Linked DNA regions of Homo sapiens: region 2 is linked to region 1. The links come from fine-mapping of genetic effects on gene expression. A gene starts in region 1. The other region holds a variant in brackets. All regions are shown on one strand. Distances are from middle to middle.

Region 1 (4,379 bases):
GGAAACCACTTGACGTCAGCTGTTCGTAATTTTTAAAAAGTATTAAAGTGCTTTTACCACATCAAAACACAACTACCATATTTTTCAGAAGAAAACACACGTCAGCACATTTCTCTGACATCATGATGAACAGCATCATTTTTCTTTTATGCATTCAGAAAAATACGTGCAAAAATGACAAAAACCTGAAATCAACCTCATGGCTCCAAATCCCAACGTCAAACCAGAGTTTAGCGACGGACGCCAACCCCTGAGAGTCACAAAGCCTTCCCTCACTTTTTTTTCTTAACCAACCAAACAAGCAGCAGTGACCCCTTTGCCTTCGAGGGCCACTCAGCTGACCAAGGGCAGCCCAGACGCTGCTGGCCCCCACCCAGCCCCCAGGCCGAACAAGCACCCAGAGCACACGCAATGCCCTGACATACCCAGCACACCAGGACTGGGATCCAGTTCCTCAACCCGCAAAGCTCCGTAGGGGAAAAGTGCCTCACAACGCAACAAGAAGCTCCTCCCAAGGGTCTCAACACTGAGCTGTGAGTCCCTGGGGGACACTCGGGAACTCCAATGGGGAAGAATACAGTGCGTTAGGAAGCCAGTGGGTGGGGAAGTCTATGCCCCACGGACACAAGGGCGGGACACAGGAGGTGGGTGGACGGCACCAGCCCCGTAGGGCATCTGTGAGCTCTGCCACGGGCTCCCAGTGTTTTGGAGCCTGAGAAGGAGACTGACCTGTGTGGCAAGAAACTATAAGCAGCTTATATAAAAATGTGGACTGGAAAGCCACAGCAGCCTCCCCAAAGGAAGCCCGACAGGAAGCGGGGCAGGAGGAGCAGGTCCTTAGGGAAAAAGGCAAGAGGAAGAGGGAGGACTGGGAGGGGAGCCTGCACAGGTGGCTCCGCAGCCCCCCTGGGCCACCACACAGCCACGCTGACCTCTGGCATCATGGCCTCCAGCAGGCTGCCCACCCCTGGCTCCCCAGCGCTCAGGTCATGCCTGAACTGGCCCTCAGGAAGTGGGGGGTTCCTGGTGACCACAGGTGCCCACCCACCCCAGGGCTTCTCCAGGACAGGTGGGGGGAGCCAGGATGGACGAAGGCAGGGCAGGGGCAGAGCTGCACAGGGGGGACCAGTAGGAGGCGGGGCTGCCACAAAGAAAAGGGGGGCAGGGGGCAGGTGTGTGCAGGGCAGGGCCAGGTCAGGTGAGGCTAGGCAGGTCACCAGGGGCAGGTGTGCGGGGCAGGTGTTTGGGGTAGGTGGGGCAGGCTGGTCACCTGGGGCAGGTATGTGGGGCAGGTGTGCGGGGCAGGTAGGGCAGGCCGATCACGTGGGGCAGGTGGGGAAGGCTGGAAACGTCGAGCAGGTGTGCGAGGCAGGTATTTGTGGCAGGTGGGGCAGGCTGGTCACCTGGAGCAGGTACGTGGGGAAAGTGTGAGGGGCGGGTGGGGCAGGTGTGAGAGGCAGATGTGAGGGGTGAGCTAGTCACGTGGGGCAGGTGTGCAGGGCGGGTGGGGCGGGCGGGTCACGTGGAGCAGGTGTGAGGGGCAGGTGTGCAGGGCGGGTGGAGCGGGCTGGTCACGTGGAGCAGGTGTGAGGGACAGGTGTGGCGGGCTGGTCACCTGGGACAGTTGTGCGGGGCAGGCGCGCGGGGTAGGCGCGCGGGAACCGGACGAGGCGAGAGGCCGGCGGGCGCACTTGCCTGCGAAGGCTGCGGCAGCGGCGGCCTCGTCGGGGCCGGGCAGGGCCTCGGCGCCCATGTCCATGTGCCCGGGCTCCGCCGCCATCACCGCCACTGCCGTGACCCGCGGCGTCTCCCGCTCCGCCTCCGAGTCTGCGTCCTCCTCCGAGTCCTCGTCCCTGCTCAGCACCGGCTCCTCCGCCTCGCCTCCTGCCGCGGCCGCGGCCGCCGCCGCCACAGCGGCCGCGGCCGCCACCGCCGCCGCCTCAGCCAGGCCCAGCTGCTTTGCCGCCGAGTCCGAGTCCTCCATCCGGACTCCGCCGAGCCTTCCCGAAGGCGCCGTCCGGGACCGCCCGAAGCGCCGGTCGCGGAGCCCGAAGCGGGGCCCGAAGAGGACGCCCGAGCTGGGCCGAGGCCGCCCGAAGCCGCCGCCCGAATAGGGACCGAAAAGGCAGCCAGCCGCCGAGCAGAGCCGAGCCGAGTCCGCCCGCGGAGCGGAGCCGAGGCGAACAGAGGCTGCCCGAGTAGGAGCCGAACCTGCACGAAGCCGCCGAGCCGAGACCGAGTCCTGAACCGAGGAGGGTCGAAGTTCCCCGAAGTGGGAAGCCGAATCAGTCCGAATAGGTCCGAGTCCTCACGAGGGCTTCCGAGAGACTCGGCCCCTGCTCTCCTCACTGTCCTGACAGGCTGAGGCGGCTGTCGTCCCCGGCCGACAGGGCTGGACGGCTCTAGGCAGATTCTCGCCGGCGGCCGGCGCAATTCTGCCTCTCAGAGAGAGCTTAGTGCCGCGGGTTTCGCCCGTTCCCGCCGCCGGCGGAAGCCGAGTCAGCCCGAGGCCGAGCCGAGACGAGCCGAATGTCCCCGAGGCCGAATGCTCCCGAACGTCGGTTCTCCACCTCTTCCCTTCCGAAAGTGCCCGAGCGGTGCCGGACGGACTAATCGGGCCTCGGCCGTGGCTCGGACGTCCGCTCCCGAAACGCGGCGCGGTCGGGCCCCTTCGTCAGGAGACGCGAAAATGGCCGAAGGAGCGCGAGCGCGCGGGCCGAGAGGCTGCCGGGATCGCGACGGACCGGCGGGCGGGGCGGGTAAGATGGCGGCCCCGCGGCGAGGTGAGCTCGGGCGGGGTGGGGGCTTCCGGGCTTGCAGCGGCGGGCGCGGCGTTTCCCTGTGGTGACAATCCGGTTTCCGCTTTCGGTGCGCTCACGGGGCCGTGCCACCGTCTCTACGTGAGCGAGACAGCTCCGTCACCCCATCGAGAAGCGCGGCCTGGCCTGGCCTGGGTGGCGGGCGTCCTGCACCCCGAAGAGCTCCCCCGCGCGCGGGCGCCTGGCCCCGGGCAGGGTGGGTGCGGAGCGGCTCTGGGGGCCCCAGTCCCCGGCAGCTCTTGTCCCGCGCGTGGTTTTTGTGAAGACACGTGGGCGGGATGGGCGCAGGGTTTCGGTAGCCTTGGAACTCTCGCCAAAGAAAATCGCGGGCGCCGGTGCCTCAGCCGTCCTGCCTGAGAGACTCGCCTCCGAGAGGAGGAAGGGACAGACCAAAGCAGTAAATCGGCCATCCTGCAGAGGAGCCGCCTTCTGCTGTCTGTGGGTACAGCCAGAACTCCCATACGCGGGCGCTGAAGTGCCAAACCTTCGTGCGTGTTCTCTAGTAATTAGGTGCATTGTTTTGAAGGAATAAAGAATGGCTACTCCATAGGCAGGACAGCCTCTAGTAACCAGGTTTGTTTTGTGTATTTTCATTTGGTTAAAAATTAAGTTTAGGTTGGGCGCAGTGGCTCAGGCCTGTAAGCCTGACAGTTTGGGAAGCCGAGGCTGCAGGATCATTTGAGGCCAGCCTGGGCAACATAGCAAGACCCCCTCTATAAAAAAAAAACTGTAAACATCAGCCAGGCGGTGGCGCACCCCTGTGGGCCAAGCTATTCTGGAGGCTGAGGCTGGCGGATCACTTGAGCCCAGGAGGTCGAGGTTGCAGTGAGCCGTGATGGCGCCACTGCACTCCAGCCTGGGCGACAGAGCGAGACCCCCTTCTACAAAAAAAAAATTAAAAATTACCCCGGGGAAGGCCAGGCGCAGTAGCTCACGCCTGTAATCCCAGCACTTTGGGAGGCCAAAGCGGGCGGATCACCTGAGGTCGAGGGTTCAAGACCAGCCTGACCAACATGGAGAAACCCCGTCTCTACTAAAAATACAAAATTAGCCTGGCGTGATGGTGCATGCCTGTAATCCCAGCTACTTGAGAGTCTGAGGCAGGAGAATTGCTCGAACCCGGTGGTGGTGGTGGGGGGGGTGGGGTGCGGAGGTTGCAGTTGGCCAAGATCGCACCATTGCACTGCAGCCTGGGCAACAAGAGCGAAATTCTGTCTCAAAAAAAAAAAAAATTACCTCAGGGAGCCTGTGGTCCCAGCTACGTGGGAGGCTGAGGCTGGCGGATCACTGGAGCCCAGGAGGTTGAGACTGCAGTGAGCTGTGATCAGGCCACTGCACTCCAGCCTGGGCAACAGAGCAAAACCCTGTCTCTAAAAAAACTAAGTGTATACCAAAACAAGATTTCTTAACACATCTTGTCCATTACATCAGGGAAAACACTTGTTCTCTTTCACTTCCATGTTTAACTTCTGCCTGACACAGCTATTCGTAGCCACATTGTGATTATAGTAAGTCACTGACAAAAAATGTTGTCCTGAAAGCCAAGGCTACGTTCGGTCA
Region 2 (4,379 bases), 27 kb before region 1:
TGAAACCTCCTCTCTACCAAAAATACAGAAAATTAGCCAGGAGTGGTGGCATGCACCTGTAGTCCCAGCTACTCGGGAGGCTGAGGCAGGAGAATCACTTGAACCCGGGAGGCAGAGGTTGCAGTGAGCTGAGATCGTGCCACTGCACTCCAACCCTGGGCGACAGAGCAAGACTCCGTCTCAAAACAAAACAAAACAACAAAGTATTAGCCAGGTGTGGTGGTGCACACTTGTAGTCCCATCTACTTGGAAGGCTGAGGCAAGAGATCGCTTGAACCTGGGAGGTAGAGCTTGCAGTGAGCTGAGATCGTGTCACTGCACTCTAGCCTGGAGAGCAAGACTCTGTCTCCAAAAAAAAAAAAAAAAAAAAAAAAGAAAAAAAGAAATAGTTATAGCCAGGAGCAGTGGTTCATGCTGGTAATCCCAGTACTTTAGGAGGCCAAGGAAGGTGGGTTGCTTGAGTCCAGGAGTTCAAGACCAGCCTGAGAAACATAGTGAAACCCCATCTATACAAAACAAACAAAAAAATAGCTGGGCATGGTGGTACACATGTGTAGTCCCAGCTACTCAGAAGGCTGAGGTAAGAGGATCGCTTGAGCCAAGGAGTTTGCGGCCAGCCTGGGCATCATGGTGAAACCCCAGCTAAAAATTGGCCGGGAGTAGTGGCCAGTGCCGGTAGTCCTAGCTACTCTGGAGGCTAAGGGAAGATCACCTGAGCCCAGGAACTCAAGGCTGCATTGAGATGTGACCACAACACTGCTTCTTAGCCTCGGTGACAGACAGTGACCCTGTCTCAAAAAAGAAAGAAAAAAGAAGGAAGGAAGGGAGGGATGGAGGGAGGGAGGGAGGAAGGAAGGAAGGAAGGAGAGAGGGAGGGAGGGAGGGAAGGAGGGAAGGAGGAAAAGAGGAAAGGAAGGAAGGAAGGAAGGAAGGCAGGTAGGCAGGCTGGCCAGAAGATGATGGAAAGACATCTTTAAACTGGTGAATGATAAAAAGTGACAACCCAGGTAGGTCATGCCTATAATCCCAGCACTTTGGGAGGCCGAGGCAGGTGAATCACCTGAGGTCGGTCAGGTGTTCAAGACCGGTCTGGCCAACATGGCAAAACCCTGTCTCTAATAAAAAAATACAAAAAATTAGCTGGGCATGGTGGTGTGTGCCTGTAATTCCAGCTACTCAGGAGGCTGAGGCAGGAGAATCGCTTGAACCAGGGAGTCGGAGGTTGCAGCGAACCGAGATGGCATCACTGCACTCCAGCCTGGTGACAGAGTGAGACTTTGTCTCAAAAAATAATAAATAAATAAATAGGCCGGCGTGTTAGCTCATGCCTGTAATCCCAGCACTTTGGGAGGCCCAGGCGGGTGGATCACTTGAGCCCAGGAGTTCAACACCAGCCTGAGCAACATGGCGAAACCCCGTCTCTACCAAAAATACAAAAATTAGCTGGGTGTGGTGGCGCACGCCGATAGTCCCAGCTACTCAGGAGGCTGAGGCAGGAGAATTGCTTAAACCTGGGAAATGGAGGTTGCAGTGAGCGGAGATTGTGCCACTGCACTCCAGCCTGGAAAACAAGAGCGAGACTCTGTCTCAAAAAAATATATATATGTAAGTGACAACCCAGAATTCCATGTCACTCAAAAACGTCCCTCAAAAATAAAGGTGAAAGAGGGACATTACAGACAAAAACAGAGAATTCATGGCCAACAGACCTATATGAAAAGAAAAGCTGAAAGTACATCTTTAGGTTGAAGAAAAACAAGATTTGGACCACACTATGAACCACCTTGACCTAATGACATTACAGAAAACGAAAACCAATGACTGAATAAAACTCTTTTCAAGTGTATATGCAATATTCACCACGAAAAGTATATACATGATCATAAAACACATCTTTTTGTTTTTTTGAGACAGGGTCTCATTCTGTTGCCCAGGCTGGAGCACAGTGGCGTGATCACAGCTCGCTGCAACCTCTACCCCTGGGCTCCAGTGATCCGGCTAATGAAGGAAACATTTTGGCCGGGCACAGTGGTTCATGCCTGTAATCCCAGCACTTTGGGAAGCTGAGGTGGGTGGATGGCTTGAGCTCAGGAGTTTGAGATCAGCCTGGCAACACAGTGAGACCCTCTCTCTATGAAAAATACAAAAATTAGCCAAGCATGGTGGCACATGCCCATAGTCCCAGCTACTTGGGGGGCTGAGGCAAGAGGATTGCTTGAGCCTGGGAACTTGAGGCTGCAGTGAGCCGAGGTCACACCTCTGTACTCCAGCCTGGGTGACAAAGTGAAACCCTTTAAAAAAAAAGTTTTTTGTTTTTTTTTAGACAGAGTCTCGCTCTGTAGCCCAGGCTGGACTGCAGTGGTGCAATCTCGGCTCACTGCAAGCTCTGCCTCCTGGATTCATGCCATTCTCCTGCCTCAGCCTCCTGAGCAGCTGGGACTATAGGTGCCTGCCACCATGCCTGGCTAATGTTTTGTATTTTTAGTAGAGACGGGGTTTTACTGTGTTAGCCAGGATGGTCTCGACCTCCTGACCTTGTGATCTGCCCGCCTCGGCCTCCCAAACTGCTGGGATTACAGGCGTAAGCCACTGCACCCGACC[CT/C]TTTTTTTTTTTTTTTTTTTGTACAGACAGGGTCTCACAATGTCCAGGCTTGTCTCAAACTCCTGGCCTCAAGACCTTGGCCTCCCAAAGTGCTGGGATTACAGGTGTGAGTCACCATGCCTGGCCGAAATAAATCGTAATCAATTTAAAAGAACTGAAATCAGAGTATATTTTCTAAGCATATTGGAGTTGAATTAGAAATCAGTTGTGGTAGGAAATCTAGAAAATCAACTGGGTGCAGTACCTCACACCTGTCATCTCAGCACTTTGGGAGGCCGAGGTGGGCAGATCACCTGAGGTCAGGAGCTCAAGACCAGCCTGACCTAAATGGTGAAACCCTGTCTCTACTGAAAATACAAAATTAGCTGGGCGTGGTGGCGCATGCCTGTAATCTCAGCTACTTGAGAGGCTGAAGCAGGAGACTCTCTTGAACCTGGGAGGTGGAGGTTATGGCGAGCCGAGATTGTGCCATTGGATTCCAGCCTGGGCAACAAGAGCGAAACTTGTCTCAAAAAAAAAAGAGGCCAGGTGCGGTGGCTCATGCCTGTAATCCCAGCACTTTGGGAGGCTGAGGCAGGAGGATCACCTGAGGTCAGGAGTTCAAGACCAGCCTGACAAACATGGTGAAACCTCGTCTCTACTTAAAACACAAAAATTAGCTGGGCATGGTGGCATGTGCCTGTAATCCCAGCTATTCGGGAGGCTGAGGCAGGAGAATCACTTAAACCTGGGAGGCGAAGGCTACAGTGAGCCGAGATTGCATCAGTGTACTCCAGCCTGGGTGACAGTGTGAGACTGTCTCAAAAAAAAAAAAAAAAAAAAAAAAAGAAACCCCATCTTTACAAAAAATACAAAAATTAGCCAGGCATGGTGGCGCAAGGCTGCAGTGAACCAAGATCATGCCACTGCACTCCAGCCTGAGTGACAGAGTGAGATGCTGCCTCAAAAGAGAAAAGAAAAAAAAAAAAATGAGAGCAGTGACTGTCCATGGGGCAGGGGACCGATGGAAGGGGACATGAGTGGTGCTTCTGCAGGGATTGAAATGGTCTCATGACCAGGTTCATGCATTCATCAAAACTCACTACATTTTATGGTGGAGATTGAGGCACTTTGCTGTACATACAGTTTACCTCAATTACCAAAAAAGACCAAAAGGACACACAGTAAGTGTTCACGGTCATTATCTTTGGGTGCAGGGTTATAGATTTTTTTGCCTTTAAACTTTCTTTTCCTCTATAAATTTCAGCATTAAGTAGCTGTTTGTTTGGAAGTATACTTTTTTTTTTTTTTTTTTAAAGTATTTTTTTGGCCAGGTGCGGTGGCTCACACCTGTAATCCCAACACTTTGGGAGGCCAAGGCAAGTAGATCACTTGAGGCCTGGAGTTTAAGACCAGCCTCGCCAACATGGCGAAACCTCTTCTCTCCTAAAATACCAAAAAATAGCTGGGCGTGGTTGCACATACCTGTAATCCCAGCTATCTGGGAAGCTGAGGCACAAGAATCGCTTGAACCTGGGAGATGGAGGCTGCAGTGAGCCGAGATCACACCACTGCACTCTAGCCTGGGTGACACAGCAAGACCATCTCAAAATATATATATATCTTTTTCTTTATTTTTTTCCTTTTTAATTTCTTTTTTCTTTTTGTTTTTGTTTTTTTTTTTTTTTTTTGAGACGAGGTCTCACTCTGTTGCCCAGGCTGGAGTACAGTGGTGTGATCACGGCTCACTGCAACATCAACCTCCTAGGCTCAAGCAATCCTCACGTTTCAGCCTCTT

Direction of the effects. Alleles are on the strand shown, and positions count from the first base shown. SD is a standard deviation of normalised expression in the study named.
As copies of CT replace C in region 2, the expression in Th1 cells of the gene that starts at base 2,159 in region 1 goes down (large effect, 0.79 SD a copy in Schmiedel 2018).

Evidence for each region. PIP is the estimated chance that this variant, and not a neighbour inherited with it, causes the effect. A credible set is the group of variants that fine-mapping cannot tell apart.
Region 2: its variant is the best candidate, but not a certain one, in a credible set for the expression of DEAF1 in Th1 cells (Schmiedel 2018, PIP 0.57).

The regions. Positions count from the first base shown.
Region 1 is chr11:693,064-697,442 of GRCh38, forward strand. DEAF1 (DEAF1 transcription factor) reads right to left here and starts at 2,159. Exons shown (of 12, transcript NM_021008.4): 1 at 1,696-2,159. The coding sequence starts at 1,984. It overlaps TMEM80 (transmembrane protein 80), which reads left to right and starts at 2,753. Exons shown (of 5, transcript NM_001042463.3): 1 at 2,753-2,783. The coding sequence starts at 2,765. RefSeq lists silencers at 1,531-1,780, 1,801-1,920, 1,931-2,230, 2,731-3,150 and enhancers at 1,596-2,135, 2,136-2,677, 2,678-3,217, 3,758-4,297.
Region 2 is chr11:666,524-670,902 of GRCh38, forward strand. The region is part of intron 10 of DEAF1 (DEAF1 transcription factor); the gene reads right to left. Among named protein-coding and RNA genes, the nearest start is that of DEAF1, 27 kb to the right of the region's middle. The variant CT/C (reference allele first, on the strand shown) is at 2,602.